Linked DNA regions of Homo sapiens. The protein of the gene in region 4 purifies or fractionates together with the protein of the main gene of each other region. This does not show direct contact. Each region holds a gene or a part of one and is shown on either strand. Other genes may lie near its edges. The genes, in order: HS2ST1, VPS8, URB1, UXS1, FAM98A, LMBR1 and GPC1.

Region 1 (4,248 bases), on a different chromosome or scaffold from region 4:
CGGTTCTCATGCCTTAGCCTCCTGAGTAGGTGGGATTACAGGCGCCCGCCACCCCGCCCGACTAATTTTTGTATTTTTAGTAGAGATAGGGTTTCACCATGTTGGCGAGGCTGGTCTCGAACTCCTGACCTCAAATGATCCGCCGGCCTCGGCCTCCCAAAGTGCTGGGATTACAGGCGTGAGCCACCGTGTCTGGTCAAAAATGGCTTTAAATGGTGTTCTTACTTTAAACACGAGTATCTACGATGAAAAGTGCCTAGTACAGAATATGGTTGTCAAAATATGGTTTCCTCTGCTAGGCATGGTAACACCCACCTGTACTCCCAGGTATACCCATCTGTAGTCCCAGGAGGATTTTGATGCATATTTACTACTTTTTATGAAATTTTCTTTCTTGTATCACAAGAAAGCACTTTATATTTTAACTGTGGCATTATACATCTTCAGATAACTTTCTTTTAAAAATCATTCAGATTGTGTCTATGGAAGCAATTTTCAAGTATATGGGGAAAGAAATGTTAGGAAAGGAGGAAAATCAAAAATTTAAGTCATTCTAACCCACTGTAACGTGTCTAAGAAATCAACTCCAGACAATTCCAAATAGTAACAAAACAAAAAATAAGTACAAATTTTAATTTTAATATAACTTTCCACTTCAAGAGGAGTCTTTTTTTCTGTAGAGCTGGATCATTAATAACGCCAGAATATGACCCTGAATGTCGCTAAATGGATCCAAAAGAAAAGAAAAACCAGACTGGATAACCTTCAATATTTAAAGTGGACATTTTTTTCCACCACACAAGATACATATTAATAAAGGAATTCGTAAATAAACTGAGTATCTCTTCAAATTTTACTCTAGAATTGAGGGCTGGAAGTAACTCTAGTTTTCCTCCAACTTTAGTTGCACTTCACTCAGATTTACTTGATGGTTTTTCTTTCAAGGCTCTTTAAAATGTCAAGGCTTTTGCAAAGCCTTGTACCAAAATAGCTACTATACATAATATTACAATTATTTTCTGGTACATTTTTCCTAAAAATTAATCATCCACTCACAGTAACATCTATTTCTTAGTCTAAATTACACTGCTGAGGGTTTTTTGTTTTTGTTTTTGCTGGCTTCTCAAAAGGTATTTAAAATGATTTTGAGGTGAGAGTATGCAAAAAACACTTCACATTACTTTTCCATATTCAAATTACATCCTCTTGAGCTGATTTTTAAGTGCCATGTACATTTTTAAATCAAAATTTATCACTGTCATTCTTTTAACTCTCGCTCTCCATGCTGAGCTCTTCCAAATGCCAAAGTGCCCTATTAATCCGAAAGTACCTATTATCTGTGCTTTTTTCTGGCCTGTCTTTCACAACTTCACACCAACTTTTTGTACTTTAGACCCCCTCATCCATTAAAGCACCTGTTAACCCTTTAAGGTATTTAACCATATGGTTAGCTTTCCGCATAATCCTACTTTTCCTTTAACAAACACAAACTTCACTACATAATTCCCCTTCAGCGTTCCCTCCTCTTCGAAATTCACATCAACACTGCCGTGAAGCAACATACATAGGCATCCCTATTCTCAAGCCCCAATTCATCAGTTTAGCGCCACTAAAGAAGAATTTAAATCTCCGGACCCTCATTTCCGTACTCCGATGAAGCTTTGCACTCGCGTTCCCGCACTACCCGGCCAGCCTCCCTCAGCTGGCAATTACAAGGTCCTTTGCTGCCCGGAGCACAAGAGTGCAACTCGCTACAGTGTTCACATGTTGCTCTCCGTCATCCCAGCATCTCCTCCCATTTCTGCGCACCTATCCCTTCATGAGCCCCCAAAAGAATTCGTATCCAGATGCCCATAGCTCAAATTAGAATACCCCTCATCTGACATTGCCAGGGCTTCCTGTACGACTTCCAAGAGAACACGCGATGCTAAGCGCTTCTGTCTCCGGAGACCAGCAACACACGCTCCCCACTGAGTTCGGTCTTCTCTCTCGCTCTCTCTCCGCGGAATGCCTACTTCGGGGCTACCCTTTGGCTAGGGAAGCCCAACCTTGCAACCTCTGCCCCGTGACCTCGCGAGCCCAGCACGCCGCTCAAGCTTAATTCAACCCATTCTTGGAGCTCGTGCTCTCGCTGCCCCTTGTTCCCGGTTCTCTTTGAAACCGCTTTCAGCCCCCGAGCCAGACCCCAGGTTAGATGAACGCCCACTTGCTCCGGCGGCAGCGCCTCCTCGGCCCCTTCCACAGCACTCAGCCCGGGGCAGTTCAGTTCCTCACCTAGCTTCGAGCGGGACTCCTCCAGTTTCTGGATCTGGTTTTCCAAGAAGAGCATCGCCACCGCGAAGGCCACCACCGCCAGCAGCTGCAACTTGGGCGGCATCATAATCCTGAGGAGCCCCATGAAACCCGCTGCTCGGGATCAAGACATACCGCGGGGGGCGGGGAGCGGGACCCCGGAGGCGAGAGAGACGCCGGGAGGAGCCCGCCGAGCCGGGAGCGAGGCAAAGAGAGAGCGACAGCGAGAGAACCACCGCAGCGACCCCCCTTCTCGCCTCTCCAGTCCCCCTCCCCCAGGCGCTATCACCAACGCCGCTGGTGTCCGCTTCTCCTCAGCCGACTAAACGGCCGCCCCCTCCAAAAGCCCGCGCAGCAAACAGCGCGAAGCGGCTGCCGGGCTCTCGCCTCCCTCTACTGCCTCAGTCCCCGACCCCCGCGCCCGCCTGCTTGCCCGCCTCCCTCTCTTCCTTCCTTCCCTCCCTCCTTTGCTCGCGGCCGCGCGCCCCTCCACCGGCGCTGCGGCTGCGCCGCCCTCATCCCCGCCCCCGCCCATCCCCCTCCGCCACCACGCGCACGCATCCGCGTACGCTGCTCGGCAACCAGAAGCCCCGCCCCTCCCCCCGTTCGGGTCCGCTTATTGGACGGAAGAGCCCCTGCGCTTCGCTCTTGGTTCGGTTTACGGTTGGTTTCCTCTGCCACAGAGCTCAATCAAGACGACATTCAATTGGGTAAACTTGGAGAAGAAGGCGGGGCTAAAACTGGCGAAGGCGTGGCTTCTTGGCTGCTTGACGAAGTGTCGTGAATAAAAGAAAGGAGACCGCAGAAGTAAAGAAGTGGGGAGTTTAGGCAAGTGCCTGATTTGGGTAATCGAAAGCACCCAGTGATTGTATTTGATGACTTTTAAGCTTTCATATGCCGTTATTTAATACCTGTCACTTCCAAATGAGAGATGTAAGGGCAACGGCCGTTAGCGTTCTGTTTTGGATCAGGCTCTGGAGTGGACGCCCCTAGCTTAGGGGTCCTTCTAGGCAGCCAGAAACCTGCGGAAAATGGTAGCGATGGCGGCTGGGCCGAGTGGGTGTCTGGTGCCGGCGTTTGGGCTACGGTTGTTGTTGGCGACTGTGCTTCAAGCGGTGAGTGTAGATCACCTTCGCAGCTGCCACAGGGAGAGTAGGAGTGATTGCAGCTGAGAAAGACGCAACATTCGGTCCTGGTTGAAAAGGGTGGGGAGGACTGCGCTTCCTTAATGACTGCTGCGGCCAGAATGCAACGTGGCTTAATTTCTCGGTTGATCCTTCTCCTTCCCCGCCTTGGGTTTCTAGCAGCAGTTTTCTCTTGATTTCAGATTGTCTTGGGTACGTAGCTTCTCTTATACGGCTCTTGCTAAAAACAATCTGTAAACCACACCAGGTGGGAGGGGGGAATAATAAAGCTTGGCAAGAAGTGGAGGTTGTTTTTAAATGGACAGAAATGCAAGAGACTCATGACGAGACTTCCAACTCTTAGAGGCAAGTCTTCAAGTCGTTGGTCCAGGCGAACAGTTTGTGTTTACCTCTCTCGCGCGCGTGCTCTCTCATTTTCACTACTTCTGTTAGTCTCTTAACTTCCGTTCTCCTCTGCTATTCATATACGGCTGGCTGCGCTTGAGTGCGATTTGTGCTTTTAAACAATGTTGTTGGAGTAAAAGGAGTTATCTATACCAAAGTATAATTCATTTTTGAAGTTAGTTTTTTAAATGATGTTCGTTGTCTTCTTTAAGGCAGCGTTTTTTATTTCATTTTTCTCTATTGGCAGAATAGATGGGTGACCTTTGAATGGGAAAAGTGTACTTTTAACTTATTTCTTCTCATATCCATGTTCTGCTGTGTGAATAGTAAAATTTTAGGCACAGTGCTGAAAGCTTTTACGTTTTTTTATCCTAGCTTAATTCTTCGGGTAGTCTCTAATAAGGAGACCTGGTTTAATTTACTTATC
Region 2 (3,470 bases), on a different chromosome or scaffold from region 4:
CTTGAACCTGGGAGACGGAGCTTGCAGTGAGCCAAGACAGCACCACTGCACTCCAGCCTGAGCAGCAAGAGTGAAACTCTGTCTCAAAAAAAAAAAAATTTCTACCTAGTTTATGTATCTATTTCCTGTGGGTTTGGTTAGTATCAGTCCATGAGAGCCTGACGATTCCATTGCACTGAGAAAAGGATCATCTGAGTATGTAAGGTGGAAACCTAGGTGTCTGGGTGTGGCGACCTCCTGTGGCAGTTGGTTCAATGATATACGAAGTCCCATGGCCAAAAACTGAGTACTATTCTCTTTGGCAGCCCAGCGCCTGTCACGGGAGCATATGGGTGGCTGGGCTGCTCTGAATACAGCTGACAATGGAGCTGCTTATCTGAATTAAGGAGGGTTGTCACAGGCAGGATTCCTGACTTTGAGCTAATAAAATTGTGACAACAGGGCTCGAAATGTCCTCCATGACTTGACAGACTGAGAGCCAGCCAGCCAGGAGACCTGCAGAACTTAAACACGGAGCATTTATTGTTAGAAAGGGCAAGTCTTACACTCAAATAGGTTTTAACATGAACACATTAAAGGGAGATGGCCCTGGCCCCCACAGTGTCTGCTCTCTCCAAGGCATGCTTCAGTTATACTGCAGCCTGGCCAACCACTGTTCCCTGTAGAAGTTGAAGTTCCTCTGTATTATCCAGCAGCTGGAGGAGACGGAGTATGGCAGACTCTGGAATGCCATTTGTGTGAGTTCCACCTACTTTCTAGGCTTCAGGGTAAATGGAAAAAGTCGCAATAGGCGAAATGTATTTCCTAAAAAGCTGGACAGAGGTATGTGACATTCCTTTGCTTAACAAGCAAAACAAAATCAATGAGTCTGGTGAACTGACGCCATGACAGCAATGTGGAGAAGACTGGGAGTCTACACTGGGAATGGTGCTGTGGACGCTCTGGGCACAGAAGCCCAATTTGGAACCTCTTCTCAGAAGCGTGGGAGGTGGTGGAGGCCAAGCCCACCAGAGGCGGGGCCTCTCCCCAGCTGCCTCGGGATCATCTCTGGTTCTCCTGGGCCAGGCTCCATGGAGTCATCAATCCTCAGTCACAGGTGGAGGAATGAGCTGCAGCTGGAAGTTCTCATTCTGGAAGATGCTGTTGAAAGCAGGAGCACTCTGCGAGCCACTGAATGGCCTATAGCTCTCGCTGCTGCGATTCTGGGAGAGTTCCGTGAGGAGAGCCAGCTGCAAAGGAAGGACACACATCAGCTAAGGTTTGTGGGGAGCAGAGGGAAGAGAGGCTCCTGAATCCACTGCTTCAGATACATGAGAGACAGTGCTGTGTTGCAGGAGTAGTAACATGCAGGGTTTGAATCTTAGGTCCATATATCACAAACGAGCAGTGTGACTTTGGGCAAGTTCACTTCATTTTTTAGGGTCTAAATTTCCTCATTCAATAATGAGACTGGACTGGTTTGCTCCCAAGGGCACTCAAACTGTGCTCTCTCTGGCACTGGAGAGCTCTCCCACCCTGGGCTGGCCCTGTGCTGAGGGCTCCTCCAGCTGCTGTGGATGGCCCTGCTGCCACCCTTCTCTCCCTGTGGACGCGCCCTGGGCTGAGGAGCTCTGTTCTCAGCTCTGCTTGTTCCAACCTCTCCATCTTGGTGCACTCTCCTCGGGGTGAATGACTAATTATGACCACTGGCTCTGACCTCTCTTCTGTAACCTGGAAGGCCTCAAACAGACACCCAGCTGCCAACTCAAACTCAGGGGTTCCAGAGTGGAACCCCTGGATTCTACCTTCTCCTTCAAGTGAGTCCTCTTTGCTCCCAGCTTCCTTATTCCCACCAATGACACTAGCAGTACCCTCGTTCTGTCAGTGGCTCAATTCTGGAAGACCTGCCAAGGAGGACAGAAGGGTAGGAGGAGATGCTAATGTCGGCCTGTTGGGAAGCCAGTGCTCTGCCACTCAGGGGGACCATCCCTTTCACCTAAAGAGGCTTTCTGCGAAAGTAGGGAGCTGGCAGCCTGGCTCTTGAGGTGCCCTTGATGGTCAGAGGAGAGACGAATTCTACACCCAAGGTCCTTAGACTTCCTGCCTGATTAGGGTCTTTGCCTGTTGCTTCCCAGAACATTGTGAGTTAACTTCCACCCCACAGAGCTAATGTGAAGGAGAACTCAGAGCCCAGGTCAAAATGGTCCCTAATAACAGTAGTTGGGACCTGTGGGATGGGCCACTGTGTCCACTACCAACACTCTAAGGGACCCTGTGTAGGCTCACATGGAGGCCAGTGAAAGCCTGGTCCATGGGGAGTGTACAGCTGAGACGAGGGGGCCATCAGACTCCTCAGGGCAGCCCTGTCTGTGTCTACCAAACACTCCAGGAGTCCGAGGGGATGTCTAACAACCTCTGGTGACTGTATCAAGTGTCTTTCCATGACAGGCACTTTGCTAGATCCTTGACATGTGTGTTATTTCTCATCCTTCACAACACAGTGACTTGCCCTCGGTCACCAGCAGTGAGTGGCGGTGTGGGATTCACCCGCCAGGCACCATGTCTTCGAGGTGCCCTCCGACCTCTGGCAAAGGGTTTTTCCCTCACACAGGCAATGGTGGCACAAGCTCACGTGTCCATGTGTCACTTCTGTGGAAAACTCAGTACCAGTGGCTGTGGTAACTGGGAAGACATCTGAAGGCCCCTAAGTTCTAAGTGTCAATTTATCAAAAGTGGTCCAGGTCCTGGCCCAGAGACACATGTATGGTCTCATTCACAACTCAGTAACTCTGACTCAAGCACTACTCCAGGGGCCAAGAGTCCACTTCGTGCCACTTCCTTCTTCCGTAACCCTCTCAGTTGCCCATCAGCCTGCGACGTTCTCTGCAATGACTGTTATGTACGATGCCTTGAACAGAATGAGCCACAGACGCTCAACTCAATGCTTTCACATCCTGACACTGTGAGGTGGGAAGATCAATTGCAAAAAAAAAAAAAAAAAATTATTTCCCAGGAAAACAGATATTTTTGTGTTCCACTTTGGTAACTTTGTGATCCGGAAATCAATGAGCCTTAAATAAGGGCTCAACAGTTTGAAGCAGAAGAACCTCCTTGGAAGGCCCAGAAACCCAACTCCTGGGGCAGAGCTTAGCTGAGGCTGGAAAGGGATGGGGGTGAGGCCAGTTCAATAAAGCTGCTGGACTGCATCCAGGAGACCCCTAGAGAAACTTCCTGGAATAACAACCTCTGCCCACACCAACTCTCAAAGAAGGAGCACCACTCTTTCCTCCGGCTGCCAAGTAACCTAGTAGGTTCTGCCTAAGAAAGGGGAGTGCGTGAAGGGGGCCCAGGTAGAGAAGCAGAGGACACAGCAGTTTGCACAAGCTCGAGACAAGCTCAGGAACAAATGGGACCACCTAGAATTGAGGTGTGATTTGGGGAGTGAAGAAGATGGTAGGGTTTGGACTCATTCTTTAGGTGGTGGAGATCCA
Region 3 (4,248 bases), on a different chromosome or scaffold from region 4:
AATGATGTAGCACCTGAATGTCATGAGGCTCTCTGTGCAAGACCATGAAATATAGATACTACATCTTTTTAACAATTAAACGTGCTCTTTCTTCTGCCAGTAAGGTTCCTGTCCCTGTCCCATCCTACAATCCTTTTGAAAAGCCACTTCCTCTGATGGCCAGTGATGATGAGCATTTTTTCATGTGTCTTTTGGCTGCATAAATGTCTTCTTTTGAGAAGTGTCTGTTCATATCCTTTGCCCACTTTTTGATGGGGTTTTTTTTTTTCTTGTAAATTTGTTTGAGTTCATTGTAGATTCTGGATATTAGCCCTTTGTCAGATGAGTAGATTGCAAAAATTTTCTCCCATTCTGTAGGTCGCCTGTTCACTCTGATGGTAGTTTCTTTTGCTGTGCACAAGCTCTTTAGTTTAATTAGATCCATCAGAGAAATGCAAATCAAAACCACAATGAGATACCATCTCACACCAATTAGAATGGCGATCATTAAAAAGTCAGGAAACAACAGGTGCTGGAGAGGATGTGGAGAAATGGGAACACTTTTACACTGTTGGTGGGACTGTAAACTAGTTCAACCATTGTGGAAGTCAGTGTGGCGATTCCTCAGGGATCTAGAACTAGAAATACCATTTGACCCAGTCATCCCATTACTGGGTATATACCCAAAGGATTATAAATCATACTGCTATCAAGACACATGCACACGTACGTTTACTGTGGCACTATTCACAATAGCAAAGACTTGGAACCAACCCAAATGTCCAACAATGATAGACTGGATTAAGACAATGTGGCACATATACACCATGGAATACTATGCAGCCATAAAAAACGATGAGTTCATGTCCTTTGTAGGGACATGGATGAAGCTGGAAACCATCATTCTCAGCAAACTATCGCAAGGACAAAAAACCAAACACCGCATGTTCTCACTCATAGGTGGGAACTGAACAATGAGAACACATGGACACAGGAAGGGGAACATCACACACCGGGGCCTGTTGTCGGGTCGGGGGGAGGGGGGAGGGACAGCATTAGGAGATATACCTAAGGTTAAATGACGAGTTAATGGGTGCAGGACACCAACATGGCACATGTATACATATGTAACAAAGGGGCACGTTGTGCACATGTACCCTAAAACTTAAAGTATGATTAAAAAAAAAAGAAAAGAAAAGCCACTTCCTCAGGGGAGCCTTCTTTGAGCTCCCAGATTAGATCCAAGGTCTGTTAAACACCCTCAGGCACCATGTACCTCTCCTTTGGAAAACTCGTGCTTGAAACTGTATGTATGTGATTTTACTGACCAATATCTGCCTGCCCCACTCGACTGTTTGTAAACCCCACAATGGCAGAGGCTTTTTGACATTTTTATTCATCACTTTATCTCTACCGTAGCAAATAATAGCCTCTAGTAATACTTAATGAATTCGGAAATAAATAACTCTATGCTAACTAAGTATCATCTTCCTAGCTGTGACTAGCAAGTACAGGTATAGGTATCAAAGTTTAAAAACAGGCCAGGTGTGGTGGCTCATACCTATACTCCCAGCCCTTTGAGAAGACAAGGTGGGAAGATTGCTTGAGACTGGGAGTTCGAGGGCAGCCTGGACAACATAGTGAGATTCCATCTCTACAAAAAGTAAAAAAAAAAAAAAAAACATAGCTGGGCATGGTGTTGTGCACCTACAATCTCAGCTACTTGGGAGGCTGAGGTGGGAGGACAGCTTAAGCCCAGAAGTTCAAGGCTGCAGTGAGCTATGATAGTGCCACTGCACTTCAGCCTGGGCAACAGAGCAAGACCCTGTCGTTTAAAAAAAAAAATGAGGACAAAAATTGGAAGTTGAAGATATTTTGGCCATTAATTTAATCGTTTATTTAACCTGGGAGAAAAACTGCCACTGTTTTATTTTAGAGCAATGCTTCCACATGGCAACACGTTCAATTGCGTTTTTCCCAAACCATGTTACTTTCCAAACGATTACAAGTAGTCGCGAAGGGTGGTCACACTTTACAAAAAGTGTAATTAAATTATAGAGTCGGCTACATCTCAGTCACTGGCCCATTCCTGGTCAACTGACAAGTAGCTGTGGTGGCTTCTAGTAGCTTGTTACAAGTCATCAAGTCAGTATGAGTGTTGGGGGATGGAAGCTATTGAAAACGGTGCTGACGGCCCAAGGAGTAGCAAACTGTCTCATGAACCGTCCTGAGCCGACTCAGTAAGGACTCAATAGAGAAGGACACTTCATTTACTTCCCTGACAACTGCAATAAAGAGGTTTTAGAGCTCGCTGAGGGATGCTGCCTGGGCAAGGGAAATAAATGTGTTGTAACATGAAACGGTCCCAATCAAGCAAGTCGGGGCCCTCTCGCTGTCGCCGACAGTCCAGAGCAAGGAAGTACACAGCAGTCCTGAACCTCAGTTTTCTGCAAACCAGAGGCTTGCCACTGAGCCTATGTGACCCGAAAGCTGCAGAAAGGAGAGGCTGTGCCCGGCACACGGAGGCCGCCTCGCCAGCCTGTGCTCCCGACCCTGCGCCTGCCGCCCCGGACTCACCTGGCCCGGGGCCCTGCGGGTCCTTCAGCTGAGCCTTGAACCGCACGCCCGTGAGCTCTTCTTTGCGGGCGCGCTTGGCTGCACCCGCGGAGGAAGCCGCGCCGTCCTGGCCGCCCGAGGCCTTCCTCTTGGGGACCCCCATGGCCGAGAGGGCGGAAGCGCGACGGAAACGACACACCTGAGGGGACCCGGCAGGAGCACTGGCACAGACAGCAGACACGCGCTTCAGGCCCACATGGCGCAGGAAGAGGCGGGGCTGGCGGAAGAGGCGGGGCTGGCGGAAGAGGCGGGGCTCGGGGAAAGGCCGGCGGAAGGGGCCGACCCGCGCGAGGCTGGGACCGGCGGAAGGGGCGTGGCCTGCAGAAGGGGCGGGGCGATAGGGATCCAGAGTCTTGGGGATCCAGAGTCTTGGGGCTCCATGTGAGTTTGCTGTACCGGTTGTCCCGGTCACGGCATGGGGCGAGCGGACACTCCACGACACCCCCCGCCCCCGGCTGCAGGGTTTGGGGTCCACCGGGGCGCATTTCTGATCCCAGTGGCTCTTCGGGTGCTCTTGGCCGGAAGAACTCCCAGACCTTTCACTCCTGGCCTGGCCGATCCACGAAGACTCGGGCCCCGGCGCGTCCAAGCAGCACAATGAGTAGTTCTTGACCCGAGGTCGCCCTGAAGGTGTCGCATGAAGAGCTTGCTTCACACACAACAGGATTCGATACTTTGCCAATTCAAGGCCCTGGTGGCTGGCCGGGAAGGTGGATTCGCCTTGGCTAGGTGCCAGGCAGGTCCGCCTGTGCGGGTGCCCCTGACTTCGACCCCTAGCTTATGTCACAGCCCGAACCAGATCGACTGGTCTGGTAGCAGCCTGTCACTCCAGACTGTCCTCCACCCCAGACTTCCGCAAACTGATGGGCTCTTTGCGCCGTGCAGGGTGGGAGGAGAAGACCAAACGAAGTAACGTCTGTAAAACCCCTTCCTGGACAGCGTAAGGCCTCCACATCTAAGTTCCTGTCATTAAAATGGAGACAGCAAAGCCGACCCTATCCAGTCCTTGGGACTGTTATGAACAGAAAATGATGCAATGTATGAAAAACTGCTTTGAGGAGAAAAACAACACAGTGTGTTTTTGGAAGATGTGATTGATTTGTAAACCGCATTAAATGCTCTGAAATAAAATGAAAGTAAAAATAAGTAAAAACAGGCTGGTACATATTTTAATACGACTTCATCGATACTTAGGTATGTGTCCAAATAAATCATGAACCAGCGCATTAGATAAGTAACTTGGTGATTACTGAAATTCTCCATCAGGTTGTCCTCTAGTCTAAGAAAATTGTGTTTCATATTCTGTAAGCAGATGTGTTTTGAACATCTGAGGATGTGGGCTTTTGTGGCCTGTTGGGGTCTCAGAGTTTCTAGTAGAAAAAGCACGTGTGTTGACGCTGAGCCTCTGTCCCGACAAGATGATTGTGCCTGTGGAGATGTCTATGTTGTAGGCAGGTCAGAGAGAGGGTGTCACCCCTAGCAGATATGAGCTAATGCAGCAATGTTAAGAGAGGGGAATATGCTCAAAAAGTCATCTGTAAAAGGCAACACTCATTAGTGAATACAGACTTAATTCTGACTGATTATCCACACTGGTCCTCTTCTTTGGTTAATCGCTAACCACCAACTTTGTTTTCTGCCATGGTGGTCCCA
Region 4 (3,989 bases):
TATTAACACTGCCTCCACCCTGTGTTAAACCCCTCATAGCTAAAATCAACCATGTCGTGGGCTGCACCCCAGGCCTGCCTGCCTGCTTGCCTGCTCTGGCCCCTGTCTGCCTGGGCAGCCTCATGGCTGTAATTTTGTTTTCACACTCCAACAATACCATCCTTCTTTGCATTCCTAGAATACTGCCTGCTCTTGGCTGCCGCAGGACCTCTGCACACACTGCTCCTCCTAGAACACGCTCTCTCCTATGACTTCCCTGTTAACTCCTACATAAGCCGTCCATTCTCAGCTCACTTTTGATTCCTCAACAAAACAAACGTACCTGATTGCTCTCACTCAGGAGTTCCTGGCATAGTTCTCATGCATTCCTTTTCCTCACACCAGTTTGTAATTTAACCTTCATTTCCAATTCATGCCCACCTCACCATCTTGGCCAGTGGGTCTCAAAGTGGTGTCAGGTCACAGCAACAGCATACAGAACAACCTATTAGTGATGCAGATTCTCAGGCCACATCCCAGACCAACTGAATCAGAAACTTGAGGTGGGAGACAAGCAGTCTGTGTTTTTTAAAAAAAACCCTACTGATTCTGATGCATGCTTAAGTCTGAGAATCAACGTGCTACACTATGTGGTATAGGGTCTGTACCATCACAGCACAGACCAGTTAAGTTTTAGCACCCCATGGTGTCTCCTAGTGCCAAATTCAGGGACAACAGTAAGGACTTGGTAAGATTTCCTGGTCAGATGAATGATTGGTTAAAAAACTTTCCTGCTGGGAGCGGTGGCTTACGCCTGTAATCCCAGCACTTTGGGAGGCCGAGGCAGGCGGATCACGAGGTCAGGAGATCGAGACCATCCTGGCTAACATGGTGAAACCCCGTCTCTACTAAAAATACAAAAAATTAGCCGGGCGTGGTGGCGGGTGCCTGTAGTCCCAGTTACTTGGGAGGCTGAGGCAGGAGAATGGCGTGAACCCGGGAGGTGGAGCGTGCAGTGAGCCGAGATCGCGCCCCTGCACTCCAGCCTGGGCTGAACAGAGCGAGACTCCGTCTCAAAAAAAAAAAAAAAACTTCCCATGGCTCCATAAATCCCCTACTTTATTAATTCTAAACCCTTGCAGCGACTATAGAATACCCCCAAAATAAACATTGAAACTGCTGTTCGAAGACCTGGGTTCTAGCTCCTGCTCCCAGGCCTTTCTGGGTTCAAATTTTGGCCCTCCTTCTCTTACTATCTGTGTGATCATCCATAAATTTCCTAATCTCTCTTGGCCTTAACTTCCTCACCTCTAAAATAGGAATCATTATAGTACCGATTTCCCAGGGTTGCTCAATGATTGAGACAATGGCACTAAGAATCATGACTCACACAGTTAAGCACTCAACAAATGTAGGTAGTATTACTGCCATAATAATAGTTATTCAACTTTAAATGGTCTTTCCTCTTGGGTCTCAGCTTTCTTACTCAAGATTGACCACACACACACTTTAGACTAGTTCTTCCTCCCTTGCAAAACTACACACATCTAACACCCATCCGACGCCTGAAACCTCCCCTAGCAACCCGGAGTCCTGCTGGGGTTTTCCAGCTCCACCTCCTGAACAGCTGGGCTGTAGCACACAGGCTGGATCTACTCATACTTGCCTTCCTAGAGCTCAACTGAAGTCACTTCAGACAAGTGAAGTACCCACTCACCTCTGGAATCAGATCTTGGTAACGCCAACAGGTTAGCAGGTGATTTCATTTCAGTGTGTGTCTGGGTGGCTAGCATTCAAACGCAGCTCACACTGGGAGCTATTTCTAGTCCAATTTTGCTACTTGGTAACGTATTAATAGCATCAATTAAAACATTCCCAACGAATAGATCTTTAAAAGGACGGTTTCTGACTTCCCTAACAAGCAGAGGGCCGACCACCTGCCTGCGAAGTGCCCCTCCTGCCCTGTCTCCAGGCAGCATGCTGTGAGCGATGACAGAAACTGGACCCGCGCACAGAGAAGCTGCAGGCACGCCCTGCCCGGCCACCCAGCTGCCTGCCTGCTTCGCCCGGCCGCCGAGCCCCGGGGGAAAACCTAGAATGGGGATGCCGGTGCGCCCCGACACCTGGGCACGGCCGCGGGCCGGGGAGCCGCCCACACTTGGCTCCCCAAGAGTTAAACGCTGAGTAATTTTCCTGAGGAGCAAACAGTCGGAGCGGGGGCTCTGCCAATGGCCACAGTATTTTTATCCGACTTAACCGACACCGCGGCGCGACCTCGGCTGTCCCCAAGGGTATCCCCACGCGGCACGCTCCGGAGTCCCCGACCGGGACCCTCGCCGGCTCCCAGCGCGACATGGACGACAGCGCCGCCGCCGAGTCCCCCGCGCCCGGGCAGGAGGCAGAGACCTGGGGCCGCCCGAGGACTGCTAGGGGCCCCTCCGCCCGGGGTCCGCGCCCGGGCCTAAGCGGTAGGGGGTGTGCGCCCAAGTTGGCCCGCTTTGCTGCAAGAGTGGAAAGGGGTGGGAGCAGAAAGCGCCGGCCCCGCCCGGGGCGGGGAGCAACGCGGGGCTGCAGGGCCGCCTCGGGGCCCCGAACCACCGCCGCCCGGCCCACCGCGGCGCCGGGGAATGAATGGGGCTCCCCAGCTGGCAGCGGGCGCGCACTCACAGGCGACGTAGGCCAGCAAGGCGATGCCCAGCAGCAGCTTCATCCTCCTGCGGTTGACGGCAGACACGAGGCGCAGCAGCGCCTTGCTCACCATCCCCGGGAGCCGCGCGGGTCCAGGGCCCTACCGCGCGGGGGCCCGCCTGCTGCACAATGCGCGGCGGCGGCGGCGGCAGCGGCCCCGAGAGCCCCGCCTCCTGCCGCCGCGCGCCCCCGCCCCCGCGCGCCTGCTTCCTGCTGGCGGGATCACCGCGCAGGCGCGCCTCCACCCCCTTCCTCCGGCTCCGCCCCCGCCCCTCCGGCTTCTCTACCCGCAGGCGCAGTTGCCGCCTTTCTTGCCTTGGTTTTCGAAGAATGTGACCTGGAGGGCTGGTGGGCGGTGCGGCGCGCCGCGGCGCATGCGCGTTCCGGTCTGTTTTCCCTGAGTTAAAGCGCGCGGGTGCCAGCCGGGAGGTGCGGCTGGATTCGTTTCGCTGAGGTGCGTCCCCAACCCAAGGGCACGACTGCAGTGGCCAGTTTCCGAGCCCCGCCCGGAGGGGGGCACGCGGTGGGCATTCCGGTGTTGCAGTGAAACGAAACTTATTTGCTAAACTTGGCCGAGCCTTAGAAGTTGAATGCCTGCCTCAGAAAGTTGCCTCGTTCTCTGGGCTGTTTAGTTGGCTTTTTTTAGTTAGAATATCGGCAGCGAAAATGATAAATCCCCTAAACCTTGCCGAAGTAAAAACTGGCTGCGTTTTTTTTCCTTGGCTATGATCAACTGGGGTGCCTTTGTTTTAATAATAGTCTTTTATTATTATTTTAAAAAGCAGTGCTAAGTATATTAATTTAGGATAGACTTGGAAAAGAAAAGATGAAATTGCGCTGTCTCTGCCTAGAGAAAAACCCTGACCATGTTGTCGTGTGTGTTTCATTCAATCTTTTTGTTGAGTATATCTGTTTTATGAGTGCTGTACTGATTGCATAGGAGGTACCTGTGTTTAAAAAGCATTTACTGAATGATGATTACAAGCAAGGAGATGTATCAGAAGATCCACAGATAATCGGAAGCTTGTCATTGGATCTGGAGAGAGCTGGTCCCATGGAGGAAAAAAAGACAGGTACACACAGATGTGTGTGATGCCACATTAAGAGAGATCCCGGATTTGGGATCTGCAGGCTTCAAGAGGTCATCTTCAGCTATACGGAGAAGTTGAAGTCAGCAGCGGCTCTCCTACCTCTTGGAACCTCAGGCCATTTTGCAAAACTTAATAGATCACCCTCCTTTAGATTTATTAGAAACCTCCAAGAAAAGGAAATATGGCAGCTGGTACTAAAGCAGCAGCTTTATGTTACATCTTTCAAACTAT
Region 5 (3,070 bases), about 73 Mb from region 4:
GCAAATTAAATTATTTAAAGTAAACAAGTAATTTGAAATCAATTTATTATTTTAGTAATTTTCAGAATAACTCCATTTCTCTCATAATAAGAACTTCTCTCTCCAATAAGAACTGTAAAATTCAGATTTGTTAAAAAATAGAAAATTGAAAAATAAATGTTTTCATCATTGCTGAATAGTTGAAAGAGCCACTACTCAATAACTCACTAAGGAAAAATCCCTATGTGTGTCTTCTATGTACTTCTCCCATAGTTGCCAAGTAGCTAAATTGTTTAGATGTTCAGGGATCATGTCTATAAATAGTCTGCTCTTTTAAATTATTTAATGTGTACCTTAGCTCTGTCAGACCAGCCAAAGGATTGTACAGTGACATCCAAACGTTTTATTAGCAGCTTTCTCCGGACTTCATATTCATTGGCTATGGCTTGGTTAATTGCTTCTATCTTTTCCTGAAGCAAAATTAAAAAGACTAGTTAGAGTTTAAATCTGCTTGATTCTCTGTCCCAAAAGGGCAAAAACTACGTCTGTGTCATTCATAACTGAGATCCCGGCCATTTAACAGTCAAAAGTTCTTATTCCATATAATATACTAACAATTAATGAAATGATAGGTGACAAAAAGCTGATTCACAAAACATAATGAAGAGTATGTGAAGTACACAATTCTTATTTATCTTTCCCATAATTTACTGTGTGAAGCTCAGCCCAGTGAAGTTTTTGGCTTGAAGGCAATCCATTTGGCAACGAGAAACATGCACCATACTTAATTTCAGTTTACTTTTATCAGCTGTGTGAAATATTTACAAAGTATGAGAAAAGTGCTTCTAATCTTACACAAATAAAAATATTCTGCAGAAATCCTGAGATTCACAAAATGATTCTAAGGGTGTTCAACTAGAAAACTATGTATAAGAAAACATAATTTAAAAAGCACAAAATGTAAGTGTTGACATGAAAATCATAAACTCTATAGTTCTTTACAAAGTTTACTCAAGATGATTACTACTCACCCAGTGGGCTGGTCCCATTGGCTTCTTCAGTAAAGGCTTTCCCACATGATTAGGTGGAACTTTTGCTAATGTTTCCTTTAACTGACACAAAAACATAAATAAATGAATAAAAACTCTAAAAGTAAAACATCCTCATCTTCCCAATTCCCATCATATCTTGCCATCAAAAGAAGATTCCTGACAGAGGCAAAGGTGGAGGATGTTTTGAAATGCAAATGTAAAAGACCCACAAGATAAAGACACTCACTGGTCCCACTCCTCACGCCTACAGAAGTCCTTCATTGCACCTAGAACAGTGCCTGACAACAGTAGGCACTCAATGAACATTTGCTGAATGGATGAATGAACACACAGGAAAATATGGACTATGGATACACTGCTGCTCCCCTGTAGAGTTCAGCCAAATTTGTGCATCATGGTGCTGGTCTACCCCACAATGCAAATGTACCAATTCTTAAGAGTCCAGCAGATAAGCGTATAGGGAATAACTGTGCTTTAACAAATACCGTTCTCTTCTACTCATTTTTGTTAAAATTGCTTGTTCCTAATTAATTATATAGAAAATCTTAACTGATAATGTGTGGTATAAAAATAATTCTAATTTCTTTTCACATACTAGATTATGTTAGCAGTCAACAAATCTATTTTGTCAATTGAAGCATGAGGTTTGAAGTGACTGGATTAAAAAACAAAAATATTAATATCCTTTCTGTCCAGTCAATGGGGAGGAGGGTGGTAACATTTAGTGATAAAGAACTTAAATTGACTGTATCAAAGTTCAATGATAAAATAATTTTTAAAAGGACTGAAATCTTAATCCTTTTTACATTATATCTAGCTTACTTTAGCTTACAAACCAGTGTAAAGTTTCCTTTTTGAAAAAGAAACATGCTAACATGTTTTTAGGAAAATACTAAAATACTAATTTATCTTTAAGGCATCTAGGATTTAAAACCCAAAACTCATTTCGTAACAATTACTTAATAATATATGCACATTAGGTTCCCATTAAGAGAAATTAAATTAATTGCTTCATTTCAAACAAATGTAGGACTATGCCTTTAATACACTACAATTTGGTACTAAAGGTCTTACTTTTTTTTCAATCCCGCTGAAGAATTGGAACATAGTTATATTGGCTGGAGGTTTGGACATTCCTAGAGCAATACATATGCCTTTCAACTCTTGAAAGACCTCACTACCGCCTCCTTCTTGAGCTTTTTTTGGAGGAGCATTCACACAGAGCATTCTGGCAGCTTCTAGTTCTGAGATGAGGTATGCTGAAGTAAACAAAATAAGATTTCAAAATGAGATACAGCTATAGTTATAGTCATAAGTCTGGAGTCACAACTATATAGACCTATTGATATGTAACTGTTAAAGCTGCAAGAATGGATAAAAACAAGAAAGAAAAACTACTTTTACCTGCAAATGAAATAAGAAATAAACTGGTTATGTAATTCAGTTATTTAAGCGATATATAATGTTTAAATGTTAATTTTAAAATAAGCGATTCTCTTTGAAACCGAAGGATCGAGGTAAGTAACATCTAAAAATTTGGAATCTTGAATTCTGGTATTAAGGAACCTCCAGAACAGGGGTTGGCATCTGTTAAAAATTTTGCAAAAGAAGGCAGGTGACCAATTTTTAATGACAATTAATTTTTTTTTTTTAACTTCTCACTACTTGTGAGCATCAATGACACAACTACCTTGCTCTCTTGTCTCCCATTAATTAGGAGCCTGTCCAGAAGAGGTGTGAAACAACATTTATAAGAAGTCAAAGCTTAACTCACAGGAGAAGCAGGAAGGCACCCCAGAGCTCCTTTCCCATGGTCTCCAAATCTTATGTTGCCCTCTGGCTAATCAAAGAGAGCCCTCTTTCATCTATATTCTTCTCAGGACTCCCTTCCCCCTACTTTCCTCACCCCATTCCCTTCAAAACAACCATAAAACCTTCAAAGCACTTTTTGGCATGGTTCCCTTTGTGTCAGTATCATCCCCTTGTGTGCTGATTTCAGCCTGGTATAATGGGGGCTGCAATCTGTTTCAGGTAATTCA
Region 6 (3,500 bases), on a different chromosome or scaffold from region 4:
TCTTAGTAAATAACTACTGCCCCAGAAAACTTGGTATAAAATTTGTGGATAGGCTGAACGTTCAGTTAAAGAAAGGATACAAAATCAAAATGATTTCAAGCGCAGCTCCCACAAAACCAAACGTAGAAAGAGAGGCATTTCCTATTCCAGGCCCCTGGGGTGGGAGAAAGACACTTTTCAGAATTTGATGACACCATTATATTGGTTTCCCTAAAACAGCTGTTTCATAAAATAAGACAGTTGAAATTATGAATGTTTACTACTTTGAAATAACATCTAGACTTTCAAAGGCCAACAAGACATGACATTAGACTGATTTCATCAACAAATTCAGGCACCATGTTAACAATTTTAATAAGCTCAAGAAAAATTACTTATCTCAAATGTAATTTAAGTTACTTGTCAAGATGACATGATTATGCTTACTGTTATAAAATGGGGCAACTTGCCACTTGAGGAAAAAAATCCTGAATAGTTTTGGGAAAGAGTTTTTAAAAACACAATAGAAAAATAAGAATAGGATACATAGCTATCTGAATGCTTACACAATATACAAAGATTACACAATTCAAGTATGTCAAAATTAAGCTAAGAGTAGAAAGAGAGTAAATGTGCATATCCTGTTCCCATACCTGAAAGTTTCCTTTGCCCAAATTTTCCTTGGGAATTCAGAGTTACAAAGGATGTAACTGTTAACATAGATTTTTAAAAAAGTAATGCTATAAATTTTTTCCTAAACAATTATCCCTATCTCAAAAACTATCTTTACCTAGAACTTAAAAAAAAAACACAAAAAAGTTACTATTTTTATAATTAGATCTGAAAAAATCATTCCCTACTGAAGTATTTTCAAAGATTACTAATAAAAGAAACTATCTGAATGTTTTACTAGTCAGCACAGATTACATCTAATAGAAACACCAGGGATAATTAAGAATCTACAGTCAGCCCAATAAAAAATAACTTTTTGACAATCTTTTGAAGAAGAAATAAATGATGCTGGTAGAAAGTGATGGGGTTCAAGACACACTACTCCAAAATTTGGGACCTGGTATTTGAGAAAACCTAGGAAGGTCACACACTGATCTGTCTCCTTCTCCTGCGAAGCAGGCCATAAGACCCCCATCCAAGGGTGCCCCCCGCAACCCACCCAGAGGAGAAGCACATGTTTATCTCCGGAGACACGAGGACACCGAGAAGAATATGAACAGGCCTTGCTAAATCCCCCCGGTTTATAATCATTAGATCACACCCCTGTCTTCCAATCATACTTCCCACTACTGTCCACTCTTCAACAAACCAGAGCATAAAAGTACACAGCTTTTTCTGTTTCTTTGGTCTTCTTTATTTCTGAAGACCCCTGTGATATGTAAAACTTATCTTAAATAAGTTTGTCAGCTTTTCTCTTATTAATCTTTTGTTATAGGCATCTCAGCCATGAACCTTCCAATAGGTTAGAAAAAGGTATTACTTCTTCTCCCCTACAGAAGCTTATTGATCAACAGAGATAATACTTTGGAATTATGCTATCTCAAGAGAAGCCATGTAGGAAGGATTAAGAGTATCTAATTTTTTTACACAATTATACAGGGATCTCCTATGACGTACAAGTCATTCTCCACTAAGCACTAAGGGGGATGGGTACAAAAATATACTATAGGGCTTGGGACTTGTTTTGTTGGTATAGTAAAATGGGTTAAAAGTGACTAGGAAGTCAGTATAGTAAGCGACTTCCTGTTCTATCAGTGGGTTTGGGTATAAAACTAAAGAAAAAGATAAGACTGTACATGGCAAAGGGTAGTTTCTTGTCTGTCTGTAGGATGAGGCACCTGGAGCATGATGGTGGGCTTGTACTCATGGAGAAGAGGCTGTAAGTGAATACAACAATGGCAATAACAGATGGCACAAGGTCCTGGAAAGACTCAGGTGGGGGGATCTGAATCAAGACTATGGCTAAAGGAATTTCATATAGCTAAATGAATTTCAGTAAAATCAAGATAAACTCTGATAAGAAATCTAAAAGGAAATTCCAACACTTGAAAAAAGGCCCTGTCAATCCAAAGTAAAAAATTAGAAACAAAAATCACAGTTTATATTTTAAAGGCTCTTTGCATAAAGAAATTCATACAACTTGAAGTATATACATGCACAAAGGTGAATGTTTTCATTTGCTTACTTGAAATACTCAGGGTATAGACATAGAATACTTTTGCAAAAGAAAGACATTTTAAAGGATTTTACTTTACCCTTGTTCCTTTTGGCATTGCTGTTTCATCAACCAATAGGCAAAGAATATTACAAGCCACCAAGAGGACCGAGATGGACTACAAGACAAACAGCAAACTGTCAGCTCTCAAGATTTTTCACCAATACAAAATATTAAAATCTAGGTAACCAAATACACGTTTCAGAATAGAGGGAAAGCAGTCAAGACCAAAACGCTATATATAAAACTAAAGTAATCAGACTACAAACAAGAACTGAAGAAATTCTAAAAGATTCTGCAAGTTATTGTCATTTCAAAGCTTGTGACAAAAGCTGGTAGTATATAGATCCTTTTACTAAGTGATCTCACCAATTGGAAACACACAACTCCACAGACTTAAAAAAGTGGTAAAATATTATCAGAACTAACTTCATAATGTAATTTTCATATTTTATCACAGAATTTAAAGCAGGTTATCTGCAACACCTTGTTTTCTTAATTTTCAATGAAAACAAAGACTGAATTTCCTGCTTTCATGAAGAAACAGATAATCTTCAGAATTTTTTTTAAATTGCCATTAATTTCCATTTTTGCTTTATTGGATTTTCATAAATAAAGGCATAGATGGATTTTAATCCTGTTGATAGAAAACTAGTTTATGAAAAACCATTTAGCTGAGGGAGCTGCCATACTCAAATGCTGAAGTAAATAAAATATAATTTGCTTTTATTTAACTAGGCAAATAAATTCTTACTGTCTCAATAAGAAGGAGAACCATAACAGCGGGATACACCAAATTTCTTTCCCATGCTGAAGCCTTTTTTCGCCTCTCTATTAAAAGGAAAAACAAAATAAAACAAAGTTTTCTCCAAATTAACATTTTCCTTCCATAATGCTATAATCTGTTTTATACATAATTTCTTTTTAAAAAACATAAATTACTTTTAATTTTCCTCCATAAACTAAAAAAACTACAGATAGGGCCTTGCTCTGTCACCCAGGCTAGAGCACAATGGTATAGCCGCAGCTCACTGCAACCTCCTAGGCTCAAGTGATCCTCCCATCTCAACCACCCAAGTAGCTGGGACTACAGATACATGCCACCATGCCTGGCTAATTTTTTTATTTATTTTTTGTGGAGACAGGTTCTTGCTATGTTGCCCAGGCTGGTCTTGAACTCCTGGGCTCAAACGATCCTCCCCGCTCAGCTTCCTAACATGGTGAGATTACAGGCACGAACTACGATACCCAGACAAAAATCAGAGTTTTAAAACCAGTTTGCTACATTAAACAC
Region 7 (3,500 bases), about 130 Mb from region 4:
TAATGATCTCGAGGGTCACAGGGAGGCAAGAATATCCTCACCCGCATGCCGCTGAGGAAACCAAGGCATGACTTGCCCAGGAGCCTGGAGGTGGGGGCAGTTCCCACCCAGGGCATGTGGGTCTGAGGCTGACGCCCTCCCTATGTCCCAGCTTAGCTGGGTCTGACACGTGCCCCGCAAGGGACCAAGGCATCCCCCTGGCCTGCGAGGCTCTGGGGCCCCACCCTGCCCGGCCCCCACGCATGTTGTTCTCTTCTGTCTCCTCTGCACTTTCACTCCACAGCCTGGCTCAGCGTCCAGCCCCAGCCCCTGGCCCTTCCCATCCTGGCCCATGATGGTTCTGGGCAGGGATGGGCCAGCCCAGAGCCGCCTGCCCAGAGCAAGGCTCACATCTGTGGGTACGCTGTTAGCAGGCCATGGGCAGCAGCCAATGCAGGAGGGACTGAGGCTGTGGGGCTGAGGTCAGAGGCTGGCCCAGAGGCCCAGGGGCACAGGGTTAAAGTAGGGGGAAGAGGAAGTCCCTTGGGCAGAGCATGGGGGTCTGGAGGGGTTTCTGAGAGCCCTGGGTGGCTGTGCGCACCTGAGCCACTTTCCGGACCACGTCGCTGGCCACGCCCAGGCCCTGCACAAAGGAGCGAGCAGCCACGAAGGCACGGGTGGCCCGCAGGCGCAGCTCTCTCGGGGCCTCCCCGAAGGGCCGCAGCGCCTCGGCCTGCTTGCCCAGGCAGTCCAGGTAGTCATCAGGCAGCAGCAGCTGGGGGTGCAGCTGCTTGAAGAGGCGCTCGAGCAGGCGGGCCCAGAACTCGGCCAGCGTCTCCTCCAGGTGCAGGTTGGCACCGCGGTAGTACAGGCGCAGCTCTGAGTACAGGTCCCGGAAGGCCCTCGCGTTCTGCGTGTACAGCTCTCCGAAGGCGCCGGGGAAGGTGGCCTGCAGCGTCCGCTCCGAGTCGTTCAGCAGGTGCTGGAAGTGGTCTGCGCACAGGGAGGGGGCGTGATCGGGACCATGTTTCCCCCGCCGTGGCAGCTGGACCAGAGCAGGGGACTCAGCCCGGGAGACTCAGCTCTGAGGATACACTCTGAGGACCTCGGAGTCGGACGCCACACTGCAGCGGCTGTGGGCCCTGTGGGCATCCATGGGGCGCCCCGAGACCTCACCCCCTGGCCTGGGGAGCAGGGGCCCAGGTGGCAGGGGGTCCTCTCGGGTCTCAGGGCCTCTGACTGGGGCTCCAGTGGCAGTTTCTGAGCTGAGCCCTGGGCAGAACAGATGCTCTGTGACTCAGTGACCCCCTGAGAACACCCAGGGAGGGGCTGCTGGTGGAGATGGGGACTCACTGGGGTAAGAGGGGCAGGGCCGGTCTGTGCCCCCCTGCCAGCCGCTCCTTCTCTCCACTGGTCCCCACTTGTGCTCCCCGTGGCCCCAGCCGCCTGCCCTGCGAGTCTCCAGGGCTGCTGCCCCTCCCGCCACCCTGTCTCGGCTGCTCTCCTAGGCTTCTTGTCTTCTCTCAGCTTCTGCGATTTAGAAGCTTCAGCTGTGAGCACCCCGGGCCTGTCTGAGGGCTCTGGGGGGCCTCCTGCAGCCTAGAACCCCAGACATCTCCCCTGCTGGGCAGGGGGTGTGGAGGCACAGGCTCACCCTCAGACCTCCACATGTGCTGCAGGGGCTTTAGGGAAAAGCCCCCGTACCCCGGGCCTAGATGGGACCCTGGACTTCCCCATCCCATTTGGAAGTGGGACTTCCAGGTCTGTAACTGCTCAGAGCGTCCCTAGGGCTGTGGCCGGCTTTGCCCCACAGGTACCGGGGGCTCGATGGCCCACCACAAGGTGCTCCAGGGTAGCAGGGCAGAGGCTCTCCTTTGAGGCACGGGGGCCGTCAAGCCTGAGATCTCTGGATCAGCCCCCACGCTGACCCCTGGCAAGGCCTGGGGCTTCAGGGCTGGCAGGGCTACAGAGAGCTCCCAGGCCGCTGTGGGGAGGGTGGACGGGCCACACAGCTGTCCAGTGTCCACCTTGGGTCCTGGCGCCTGGAACGCCCTGGCCTGTCCCGGAAAGGGGCGGCTTGTGGTTCATGCATTAGCCCAGACACACCTAGAGGGCCATGGGCCAAATCCAGGTGCAGTCCCCAGCTCTACCTCCTGCCAGAACCCATTCAGCTGCTCCTGAAGGCTGGTGGGGGGGCGGACACAGGGCTCCAAATCCCTGAACACAGCAACCAGAGGTCCAGCCAGGCTCCCCTCCTACCGCCTCCCACTGGTTCCCACCAGCACTGCAGACAAAGACCCAGGGGCCCTCAGCTGCCCCGGAGGCTGGGAGGGGACAGCAGCTGCCATGGGCAGGGGTGGGAGGGGAGGACATAGGAGGTGGGGGTTGGACAAGACTCCCTGGGGTAGGGGCACAGGTGGGCCTTGGGCACATCACATAGTGGGTCATTTTTAATACAAATGTCCCCAAAGGGTGTCTGTGTTTTCAGGTCAAAGATAGGAGAGTTGAACAGGAAGGCTGGAGGCTTCCAGAGGGCAGCAGAGGGAGGGCGGCGGCAGGGCACTGACACGGGACAGGCCCCAGAGCAGGGCAGCGACACCAACCCCCTAAGAGCCAGGAGGAAGCAGGCGGGCAGGATGTCCCCAGGCCAGGAGGATGGTGTGATGGGCAAGGGTATTAGCAGGAGAGGGGAAGGGGCAGGGCTGGGTGGCACGCTGGGGCGGGAGCCAGGGCTCAGCGGCGCTGGGGAGAAACTGAGGCCCAGGATAGAGTGGAGGAGGTGAGCCGGGTCCCTACACATGGGACAGAACCAAGTGGCTCAGGAAGGCTCCTGACTCAGGGTGCAGGGGCTCGCTCCCCGGGTCCAGCTGGGCAGGAGGAAGGAGAGTCCCAGAGGGGCCACGCGCATCCCACGGGCCCCACACCAGCGGGGAGGGCTGAGCTCTGAGCATCGATGTCCAAGTCACAGAGAGGGAGCTTCTGACCCACTGCTACCCAGGTGTACGCCAACAGCTGAGGTCCCACAGCCCTGTGGAAATGGCCTTGGGGGCTCCTGGGGACAGGCAGACTCTCCCGGGAGCCTGGGAGGCCACAGCAGGTGTCCAGGAGCCGGAGAAGCAGGAACGCTGAGACAAACCCCAGGGCCCCAGCAGCAGCTGCCGTCCCTCACAGCCACAATGGAGCCCTGCAGCCTCAGCGCTCCCTCCCTCCTGTCTGCCCAGGCTCACTGTCCCGGCGCCCTGGCTCCGCCCGGACACAGGGGCAGTACCTCAGCCCGGGCCGCCTCCCTCCACCAAGTCCTCGTGTTTCTGATCAGAGGTCACTTCATGGAGGACCTCCTGACCCCACACTGTCCCCCTGGGGGTGGCTGCCACTCTCTGCCCAGACACAAGGCGAGGCCCAGCCTGGGCCGAGGAGTACGTGGCTCTAATGCAGCAGCTGGCGGGGCCTCAAGGCCTGCAGGGGTCACTCCCCGCGGCCCCCAGACTCCTGCCCCGATATAAAGGGCTGAGTGGCGGCCA

What was found.
Region 1: the proteins of UXS1 (region 4) and HS2ST1 purify together in Homo sapiens (affinity purification with mass spectrometry; 2 studies listed by BioGRID and IntAct, with this or other methods). This does not show direct contact.
Region 2: the proteins of UXS1 (region 4) and VPS8 purify together in Homo sapiens (affinity purification with mass spectrometry; 2 studies listed by BioGRID and IntAct, with this or other methods). This does not show direct contact.
Region 3: the proteins of UXS1 (region 4) and URB1 purify together in Homo sapiens (co-immunoprecipitation; one large-scale study listed by IntAct). This does not show direct contact.
Region 5: the proteins of UXS1 (region 4) and FAM98A purify together in Homo sapiens (co-immunoprecipitation; 3 studies listed by BioGRID and IntAct, with this or other methods). This does not show direct contact.
Region 6: the proteins of UXS1 (region 4) and LMBR1 purify together in Homo sapiens (affinity purification with mass spectrometry; 2 studies listed by BioGRID and IntAct, with this or other methods). This does not show direct contact.
Region 7: the proteins of UXS1 (region 4) and GPC1 purify together in Homo sapiens (co-immunoprecipitation; 2 studies listed by IntAct). This does not show direct contact.

What each region holds. Positions count from the first base shown.
Region 1 is NC_000001.11:86,913,187-86,917,434, reverse strand, and holds the start of HS2ST1 (heparan sulfate 2-O-sulfotransferase 1), read right to left. Parts: upstream 2,801-4,248; 5' UTR 2,399-2,800; coding exon 2,275-2,398; intron 1-2,274. UniProt on the Homo sapiens protein: Catalyzes the transfer of a sulfo group from 3'-phospho-5'-adenylyl sulfate (PAPS) to the 2-OH position of iduronic acid (IdoA) or glucuronic acid (GlcA) within the heparan sulfate (HS) chain and participates in HS biosynthesis.
Region 2 is NC_000003.12:185,049,635-185,053,104, reverse strand, and holds the end of VPS8 (vacuolar protein sorting-associated protein 8 homolog), read right to left. Parts: intron 1,230-3,470; coding exon 1,080-1,229; 3' UTR 501-1,079; downstream 1-500. UniProt on the Homo sapiens protein: Plays a role in vesicle-mediated protein trafficking of the endocytic membrane transport pathway.
Region 3 is NC_000021.9:32,390,213-32,394,460, forward strand, and holds the start of URB1 (nucleolar pre-ribosomal-associated protein 1), read right to left. Parts: upstream 2,801-4,248; 5' UTR 2,699-2,800; coding exon 2,557-2,698; intron 1-2,556.
Region 4 is NC_000002.12:106,191,502-106,195,490, forward strand, and holds the start of UXS1 (UDP-glucuronic acid decarboxylase 1), read right to left. Parts: upstream 2,801-3,989; 5' UTR 2,741-2,800; coding exon 2,647-2,740; exon of another isoform or gene 1,773-2,646; coding exon of another isoform or gene 1,697-1,772; intron 1-1,696. UniProt on the Homo sapiens protein: Catalyzes the NAD-dependent decarboxylation of UDP-glucuronic acid to UDP-xylose. Necessary for the biosynthesis of the core tetrasaccharide in glycosaminoglycan biosynthesis.
Region 5 is NC_000002.12:33,586,230-33,589,299, forward strand, and holds part of FAM98A (protein FAM98A), read right to left. Parts: intron 2,291-3,070; coding exon 2,106-2,290; intron 1,092-2,105; coding exon 1,011-1,091; intron 450-1,010; coding exon 333-449; intron 1-332. UniProt on the Homo sapiens protein: Positively stimulates PRMT1-induced protein arginine methylation. Involved in skeletal homeostasis. Positively regulates lysosome peripheral distribution and ruffled border formation in osteoclasts.
Region 6 is NC_000007.14:156,725,684-156,729,183, forward strand, and holds part of LMBR1 (limb region 1 protein homolog), read right to left. Parts: intron 3,038-3,500; coding exon 2,961-3,037; intron 2,325-2,960; coding exon 2,247-2,324; intron 155-2,246; coding exon 81-154; intron 1-80. UniProt on the Homo sapiens protein: Putative membrane receptor.
Region 7 is NC_000002.12:240,459,663-240,463,162, reverse strand, and holds part of GPC1 (glypican-1 precursor), read right to left. Parts: intron 973-3,500; coding exon 581-972; intron 1-580. UniProt on the Homo sapiens protein: Cell surface proteoglycan that bears heparan sulfate. Binds, via the heparan sulfate side chains, alpha-4 (V) collagen and participates in Schwann cell myelination.